Homo sapiens: one gene and its partner. The protein of the gene in region 1 purifies or fractionates together with the protein of each later gene. This does not show direct contact. Each region holds a gene or a part of one and is shown in the gene's direction. Other genes may lie near its edges.

Evidence for each region. The genes of interacting proteins can lie anywhere in the genome.
Region 2: the proteins of SAMD4B (region 1) and IFIH1 purify together in Homo sapiens (co-immunoprecipitation; one large-scale study listed by IntAct). This does not show direct contact.

The regions. Positions count from the first base shown.
Region 1 is NC_000019.10:39,369,199-39,374,442, forward strand, and holds part of SAMD4B (protein Smaug homolog 2), read left to right. Parts: exon of another isoform or gene 1-250; intron 251-456; coding exon 457-927; intron 928-5,244.
Region 2 is NC_000002.12:162,308,685-162,313,056, reverse strand, and holds part of IFIH1 (interferon-induced helicase C domain-containing protein 1), read left to right. Parts: intron 1-2,123; coding exon 2,124-2,292; intron 2,293-2,473; exon of another isoform or gene 2,474-4,150; intron 4,151-4,372.

The DNA.
Region 1 (5,244 bases):
GGCAAGAGGATTGCCTGAGTCCAGGAGTTCTGGGCTATAGTGTGCTATGCTGATTGGGTGTCTGCACTAAGTGTGGCCCCAGTATGGTGACCTCCTAGGAGTGGGGGACCACCAGGTTGCCTAAGGAGGGGTGAACTGGCCCAGTTTGGAAATGGAGCAGGTCAAAACTCCCGTGCTGATCAATAGTGGGATTGCACTTGTGAATAGCCACTGCACTGCAGCCTGGGCAACATAGTGAGACCCCATCTCTTAAAAAAAATAAGACAAAAATTACTCCAGAGGCAGGGTCAGTGTGTTTGATCTCACCTATATGAGGGATAAGTTTGGGAGTTATGAAAAGAAAATCGTTATGAAAAGAAGATTGGAGCTGAGGGAATAGGCCATAGGCAGTGCTCTCAGGTGAATAGGAGTACCCCACCCTGGCTCTCCTGATATTTCTTCTTATCCCTTCTGTAGCCATCGTCAGCCAGTGGCAGCAGGAGTCCAAAGAGAAGGTGGTGTCCCTCCTGCTGTCCCACCTTCCCCTGCTTCAGCCAGGCAACACAGAGGCCAAGTCGGAGTACATGAGGCTACTGCAGAAAGTGCTGGCCTACTCAATCGAGAGCAATGCTTTCATCGAGGAGAGTCGCCAGCTGCTTTCCTATGCCCTCATCCACCCAGCCACCACACTGGAGGACCGCAACGCACTGGCCCTCTGGCTGAGCCACCTGGAAGAGCGGTTGGCTAGTGGCTTCCGCTCCCGGCCAGAGCCCTCCTACCATTCACGTCAAGGCTCAGATGAGTGGGGGGGCCCTGCAGAGCTAGGCCCTGGGGAGGCAGGGCCAGGCTGGCAGGACAAGCCACCCCGGGAAAATGGACACGTGCCCTTCCACCCATCCAGCTCAGTGCCGCCAGCCATCAACAGTATTGGGAGCAATGCAAACACAGGTAAGTGGCGGGGGTGTCCCAGAAGGCCATGCCTACTTGAAAAAGGTTGGACTAGGCTCAGTGAGAGCTCTCTCGCTCTGTGGCATTAGACAAGTCACATAAGCTGTAGGCCTCAACTTTATGAGGCAATGCAGAGGCTGTGAACTGGCTTTCCCAGAGCTGAATCTGACCTACAGACATGTCTTATTGAACCCATACTTTGGTTTGGTTTTATTTTGTTGTGTTGGGTTTTTAAATAAATGTGAGTGGTACAAAGAATCAAGAATTTTTCCCTAAAAATGAGATTTCCAGCCTTTCTTGAGAAGTCAAAAGATCTAGCAACTCAACAAGATCTGTTTTCCTAGTGGCAGCAATAATATAGAGCTTAATGTTGAGCATGCCCTTTAGACCCTGCACAAGTGCCCTAGTCTGCCTCTGCTCCCACCAACCCCCCTTTGGGCATTTCTGATATATACCTGGCCTCTAAGGGCATCAGGCTATGACGCTTGATGGAGGTGTGCATACCATCATCTGAGATCCCTTCCAGTTCAGACAACATTATGGATTTTATGTATCTGGCCTCACTTTACAGCTTTGTTTCTGAGAACACTGTCTGTATAAGACAAAACTCATGCTGCAAGGTATTTGTAATAGTAGGTAGCATTTTTCAGCATTGACTATGCTAGGTACTCTTTTATAGACACTTTTCAGGTATGATCTCAGTCCGCATCACAACCGTATCATTAGCCCTATTCAACAGATGAGGACATCGGGACTCAGAGGTGAAGTGATGTGTTCAAAGTCACACGTAGAACAAGTGGTGGAACAGACCCAACCAGTCTGATGGCAGAGCCTGCCTCTGACCACTACACTGTCCTGCCAACTAAGCAGGTTTGAAAGAGCTCTCTTAGTAAAAGCCCTGCAGGCGGGAGTGAGCAGAAGTTGTTGGTATCCCAGTGACTTTTTGAAATGCACAGGATAAGGGAGGGTGGATTTTCCAAGCCATGGTAAGGCAGCATGACCTGACCCAGGGTGAGGGAGAGGGTTCATGATGTAAACCTCAGAGTAGCTAGTCACCTTCAGCAGGCACTGGTTTAAAGCAAGACAAGAGAGAGTGACAGTGAAATGTCACATGTGTCAGTGGGTGGGGGTAACCTCGGGTCCCTAATGCCCCGCTGTCTGGTACCTGGTGCTCATCAGTTATTCCTTGAGCCTGTTTTTCCCCCAGTTAGTGTGGCTATTCTGGTCCATCTGCCTCCCTCCCAGTTGCTGGTGAGAACCTGGGAAGATAGAGGGATAGAAGGGCAGTTTCAGGAAACTTAGCAACCTGAGGTGTCTTGGACCTCATTTTCCAGTCATGGAGCATCACAGTTCCAGGATGGGAGGATGTATTAATAATGATCATTCTAGGCAAAAAATATTGAGTGCTAGTCCGGGCATGGTGGCTCACGCCTGTAATCCCAGCACTTTGGGAGGCCGAGGCAGGCAGATCACCTGAGGTCAGGAGTTCGAGACCAGCCTGACCAACATGGTGAAACCTCATCTCTACTAAAAATATAAAAATTAGCTGGGTATGGTGGTGCATGCCTATAATTCCAGTTACTCGGGGGGCTGAGGCAGGAAGGTCGCTTGAACCCAGGAGGTGGAGGTGGCAGTGAGCCGAGATCTTGCCATTGCATTCCAGCCAGGGCAACAGAGCGAGACCCCATCTCAAAAAAAAAAAAACAAAAACACACATCGAGTGCTTAGTCTTTACTAGGAGCTATTCTAAGAACTTTATACATATAAACTCAAGGTTTAAAGCCAGGCATTCTGACTATAGACTTCATACTCTGAACTACTATGCTACACTACCTCCACCAAAAAGTACCTCTCCTGGAGATGCTCATCCCTCACCAAGGGGAGGGGTCACCCAGGCAGGGTGCCTATAAATTTCTTTGTCTTCATACCTTTTGTGCTCCCCATCATGGGTACCCCAGCAGCCATTAAAGGATGAAGATTGAACAATGTTGATAGGGGTTTGGACCAAAAGAGGAAAAGGAATTGGGCATTCCAAGTAGAAGGCACAGCATGAAATAAGCACGGGGTGGATAATTAGAGGGGACAGTATACAGACAGATCTGGCTGGGGTGGATTCGAATGAGTAATAACAGTAGCAGAGACTTGTGCTTACCGTGTGCCTATCCCTCTGCTAAGGACTTCATGCAGAAATGGAGGCAGAGAGGTGAATGAAGTGACTTGCCCAAGATCACACAGAGGCGACAGAGTCAGAGTCAGGATTTGAACTCAGGCCTGTCTTTACCCTCAGACCTCAGTGTGTGAAGGCTACATTCTGGGGGGCGTTGAAGGACAGGAGAAGCTTTTGGATTCCAGGCAGTTGCAGGAAACAGGAAATCATTAAAATATTTTTGAGTGGGGAGCAAGGATTGGCCTTTGAGGGCAGGCAGCTTGGGTTTGGGGTGCTGCCAAGAACAGATCAGGATTTCTTGGAGAGTGCAAGGCCCTGGATCTCTGGCCGGCATTCTTGTTTTTGTCATTCTCATGCTGTGGCCAGCCTCCACCCCAGTGCGGAGCCAAGCAGGGCTCCTCAGGAACTGCACGATCATTCCAGTCAGGGTAATTTCCTGCCTCTCAGCCTCTCCTGCCTACTTCTTGGCTGAGAAGGGAGAAAGAAGGAGGCCAGAGACACCAAAACAGGCAAAAAGGCCTGTCTTGAGGATTCCCCAGTCCCCCAGGGCCCAGAGTGTGCCATGTTCCCCAAGAGTGCTGAGTGGGGACAGAAGCCAGGGCTGAGGGAGTCTAGAGGCTGAAGAACTCCTGGGAAGAGGACCCTGGACACTCTGGGGTAGGGCAGAAACTGGTATTAAGGGTGGGCCACTGCCTTGCCCTGTCCCTTAGGTGACTTCCTAGCCAGGAGCATTAGTATTGTCACAGCTGAGGGAAGATGCTCTGGGGCCTGCACCAGGCTAGCCCTCCTTCCTGGGCTGGGTGTCACTGTAGCACTGGCAGGAACCCCAGCCTTTCCATCAGAAACAAGGCTTGGGCTCTGTCTCAGCCTGTCAACTCCCGTGGGAACTGGGGCAAAGGGCTTCAGCTCCCTGGGCCTTGATGTCCTCACCTACCCAGGGTGAGGCTCGTTGGCTTTGTTTCATTTCTTTTTGTCTAGGCTGACTTGGGGTACTTCTGGATGCCATAGGTGGAGCTCAGAGGCCCTCTTAGCACCCTTTTGTCCTTTATGAAACTTCGTTGGAAGGACTTCTGTGTGTCATGCCCTGTGCCTGATCATGGGATTGCAGAAGTAATTGGACTGGGCTGCCATTCTCCATGGACCCACAGTCCAGTGCAAGAGGGAGGCTAGTGAGGAGGGCAGCAAGCAAGAGGGAGGCTAGTGAGGAGGGCAGCAAGCGCCAGGCCTGAGGCAGCAGCAGAGGGGTACATGACCGAGGCATGAAGGGAGAAGTGGCTGATGGAGAAGAGTTGGCGAGGTGAGCGAGGCAGAGGAAAAAGCACAGATAAAGGTCTGGGAGCTCATGGGAACCTGCCCTGTCTTGGGAGTGGTTAAAAATCAAGTTGGAGGCCAGGCATGGTGGCTCACACCTGTAATCTCAGCACTTTGGGAGGCCAAGGCAGGCGGATCACCTGAGGTCGGGAGTTCAAGACCAGCCTAAGCAACATGGAGAAACCCCCGTCTCTACTAAAAAAATACAAAATTAGCCAGGCGTGGTGGTGGGTGCCTGTAATGCCAGCTACTCAGGAGGCTGAGGCAGGAGAATTGCTTGAACCCGGGAGGCAGAGGTTGCAGTGAGCCGAGATTGTGCCACTGCACTCCAGGCTAGGCCACAAGAGTGAAATTCCATCTCTAAAAAATATATATATATATGACCAGGCACAGGTGGCTTACGCCTGTAATCCCAGCACTTTGGGAGGCCAAGGCAGGTGGATCACCTGAGGTCAGGAGTTTGAGACCAGCCTGACCAATATAGTGAAACCCTGTCTCTACTAAAAATACGAAAAACATTAGCTGGGCATGGTGTTGGCCACCCGTAGTCCCAGCTACTCGGGAGGCTGAGGCAGGAGAATCGCTTGAACCCAGGAGGTGGAGGTTGCAGTGAGCCAAGATTGCACCACCGCACTCGGCGACAGAGCAAAACTCCATCTCAAAAAAAAAAATCAAGTTGGATTCCTTTGCCAACCTCAGACTTGGGATGGACAGAGGGTATGGAGCATCCTTCAGAAGAGGACCTGGGATCACCCTGAGTCACCAGGCCTCATGAGTGGCCAGTTTGGGCTCACTGCAGAAAAAAAATGGGAGGTAGTGAGGCCCCATAACAGGGTTGT
Region 2 (4,372 bases), on another chromosome or scaffold:
ATCCTTATATGCTTGGACTCAATAACGGCAAAGAAAGCTTGAAAAATATGATTCCACAGTAAAAGTTGACTTAATAGAATAGTGGTTGAAGAAAATTTTGTGGATAGAATATGCTTAGGGATTTTTAATAACAGCATTTGTTGCCTCACTGGTTCTTTTTAAGGAAATCCTTCCTGATTGCTTCAGTCAAATATATTTAAAGCTGATTAAAGGATGGGGTAATAAAATATGAGAATGGCTGAGTTAAAAGAAGACACTGAAACCAGTCTTATTTACATCTATAGCAATTACTTGTTAAATTAGCAGATGATAATAAAGATGTTACAACATCAGGGAAGCCAAAGAATTTCCATTAGGAGACTAAGAGAGCTAGAAAAAAATGGTAAAAAATGAGCAAAAATCTGCTTAGAAAATGTTGTGGGTGACATGGACTGAATTCACTTGAAATTTACTGAGTTCAAATAGTTATTTTTAACCACTTCTTGCCAGAAAATGAATTTAAAATTGGAGAAAATTATAAGCTATAATTATAGTTCAAGAAGGCAGGATTCAGCCTCTAAATTCAACTGCCTGGGATCAAATTCTACTTCTGCCACTTACTCACTTTGTGACCTCAGAGAGGTACCTAAACATCTCTGTGCCTCGGATTTCTGATCTGTAAATGAGTTAATATTGGTACCTATTTCTGGGCTGCTGGGTTAATATATTCAAGTTCCCTAGAACAGCATGCTTAACTACTAGATGCTAAGACGGAAATATCCCTTGGGTAGAGACCATGCTGTATGTGCTTGTGCAGGTGAGGTGTTTGTAACAATAACTCTTCCCAATCATCCATAATAGTTCTAACACTGAATTAGTGCCAGACATTGTTCCAAAAATGTTAACAAATTTCTGACATAAAAGGTTATGGAATATATTTATAGAACTAGAAAATACATAAATTTGTAGGAAAGAACTAAACAATCCAAATGATACATGTGGAAGATTGGCAAATGTTGAGAAGGACCTTTGATAATATCAAAGTCAATATTTCTTATCTGGGAGGCTGATAGAATCACATGAGATGTTTTACTTTTTCTTTAATATCTGAGTTCCTAACATAGACAAAATAAATCATAATCTTTTAGGGGTGTTTCCTAGACATCAGTATTTTTTAAGGCTTTACGGTTGTTTCTAACATGCAGCTAAGATATAGAAACTCTGAAATTTCTTTTCAGCTGCCTTGTAACCACATATTGTAACCAAGGTCTAGGGAGATGAAGTAAATTGCCTAATGCCACAGAAAGCTAATGATGTCCTGCCTAACTTCTTTCATGTCTAAACATGGCTTGAGTTACTCTTTCCTCCAAATCCTTATTGCTATATTAGGACCTAGGGAAATGCACTGTGACAATGATTACACAAAAGATCCACATTTAAAAGAAATTTACTAATCTAAAAGAGAAAATAAAAGAAGGCTAAAGACTCTAATGAATGGATATAAAAATAATTCTGCCCCATATTTCCAAAAAAAAGATATAACAATAAATTTCCCATAACATTAAAAAAACACAAATTTGAGAAAAATTGATTATAGTAATAATCAACTATGCAAATATTACATAGGAAAAAATATAAATCTGCAGTAGTAATTACTTATTTCATAATGATAATCATGAAGAAAGGAGATAAGAAATGTTTGATTTCCCATTTACAGACTCCATAGATTGAAAAAATATAGCCAGCCCTAGATATACAGAAAGAAATTGGTGAAAATAGACATAACATGGCTGCAGACTAAAGATACTTTCTCTTCTATCCTTTATTCAGGAATGGCTGAGGTAAAATTTATTTTCTAGGTGTCAGGTTTGAATAATTCAATAGCTTTTAAAAAAAATGGTTCATATTTAAAAGGACACTTGGTCCAGAGATTTTTGTTGTTGTTGTTGTTGTTGTCCCGGAGATTTTTTTCCCTGCCGACTTCAGAATTGCTACAGGTAACATTGCTATTTTCTTCAATGTTTCAATGTAAGCCTTTATTTATACTTATGCTTAATTGCTCAGTTTTTCTAAAGGGTATTTCCTGTTTAAGGTTATTCAGAAGATGTTTGATCTTACTTAATTCTAATTTTCTCTTACAACAGATTGCTGCTGCAGAAAACAATGGAAATGAATCAGGTGTAAGAGAGCTACTAAAAAGGATTGTGCAGAAAGAAAACTGGTTCTCTGCATTTCTGAATGTTCTTCGTCAAACAGGAAACAATGAACTTGTCCAAGAGTTAACAGGCTCTGATTGCTCAGAAAGCAATGCAGGTATTTGTAATTTTACTGAGGAAGATTCTTCAAATTCTGCCTAGTGATTGAGAATTCAATAAAGCAGAAAGACACAATGCTAAACACCAAGATTTTTAGAATCAAAATTTTAAGAGTGGAACATATGTGATAGATCATCTATTTTATCACCTTAACAAATGAGGAAATTGATGCCTGGGAAAATATCAACTGATCAAAGACCATTTTTCATCCAACCAACACTCTTTCTACTACCTTATTTTAAAAACAATATGACTACCAGAAATTTTATCAAGATTATGTAACATTAAATATACACAAATACATTGGAAGAAAGTATTTTAGTGGTTATAAAAAATCTGCTGCATATTCTTCTGAACATTTTTATACATTTTAAGCAATGTATTAAGCATTTGATAAAAGGATTGTTTTGTCAATATATCTCAACCTTACCTAATGTGAGATTTTAAACAGCATTCAATAATAGTAATAACATAACATTTTATAGCTCCTTCTCCTACATTATTTGTAAATCTCACTTAAACTGCTATCTTATTTTTCTTTTCGTAGTATGCATCCTATGTTTCCAAAAATATCATATGAAAGACAAATTGAAAGTTAACTATTAATTAATTATAATCATTGCAGTTTTGTTCTGGTGACCCTAACTAATGAAAACTTTGCTGTAAAAAGTGGGGTGCTGCTGTAACAAACACCTAAACGTGTGGAAGTGGCTTTGGAACTGGGTAATTGATAGAGACTGTAAGAGTTTTGGGTGAATGGTAGAAATATGGGTGTTCAGGGTGATTCTGGTGAGGTCACAGAGAGAAATGAGAAAAATGTCATTGGAAACTGGAAGAAAGGTGATCCTTGTTATAAAATGGGATAAAACTTGATCTCACAAGTAATGGATTTGGATATTTGGCTGAGAAAATTTCTTAGCAAAATGCTGAAGGAGCAGCTTGATTTCCCCTAACTGCTTATAGTAAAATGCAAAAGAAGAGAAATTAATTGAAGGAGTTGTTATGCAAAAAGGAACCAAAATTTAAATATCTGGAAAATTCTCAGCCTATCCATATGGCAAAAAATGAGAAATTGTGTTATAAAGAGAACAACCAATTGATAACAAGATCATGGGTGCTACTGATGGACTTAATCAGCCATTTCAGCAGAAGGTAGGAGTAGAGATATATTATACCAGCAAATACACTTCCAGTTTGAACTGAAGGAGACAGAGAAAGCAGGACAGAATGAGAAAAGGATACTGGACTTTCTGGATTCTACAGAACCAGACCATAGAGCTATTTGGCTGTGAATGTGTACTATTCTTCAGGGAAAGGAAAGAATGCCCCCAAAAGTGATACAGAAGTCATCAGGGTTGCCACTTCCACCACAGACCCAGAGGCCAAGGCAGTTTCCTTTTTGGTTTCAAAGGGCAAAACTGTCTCTCTGGTTTTAGTGAGCCCTCAGGATGACCCTGCCTAGTGTCTCAGAAGCAGAGCTATCCTCACAGAAAGCTGTGTGGATGGAGCCCTTAGAGAGAGCAGGCTGTCTTGCAGAGCCCTAGAACCTGCCATTCCGTGGACCTGGAAGGCAGAGCATCAAACCAAACAGAGCTATTCTCAAGCCTTATAAGCCTTAAGATGTGACAGAATTTACCTTAATAAGTTTTGGATTTGCTTGGGACCCATCACCCTTGCTTTCTTTCCTATATCTCCTTTTTGGAATAAGACGTCCATCCTATGCCTGTCCCACCATTGTATTATGGAAAAGAAACATGTAGCTCAACTGGTTTCACAAGTTCACAGCTGGTGATGAATTTGCCTTATCATGAATCACACCTCTAGTCTCATCTACGTCTGATTTGGACAATGTTTAGGTGAGACTTTTGACTTTAGACTTAGAGTTCATGCTTCAGTGAGTTAAGGCACTTGGGCTGATGAGATGAGATGAATGTATTTTGTATGTAGTAAAGATATGAATTTTGGGAAGCCAATGGTAAAATGCTACAGATGGAATTTTGTCCTCCTAATACTCATATGTTGGAACCTAATATGACTCTATCTGGAGACAGTGATAGTAGGAGATAGTTAAGATTAAA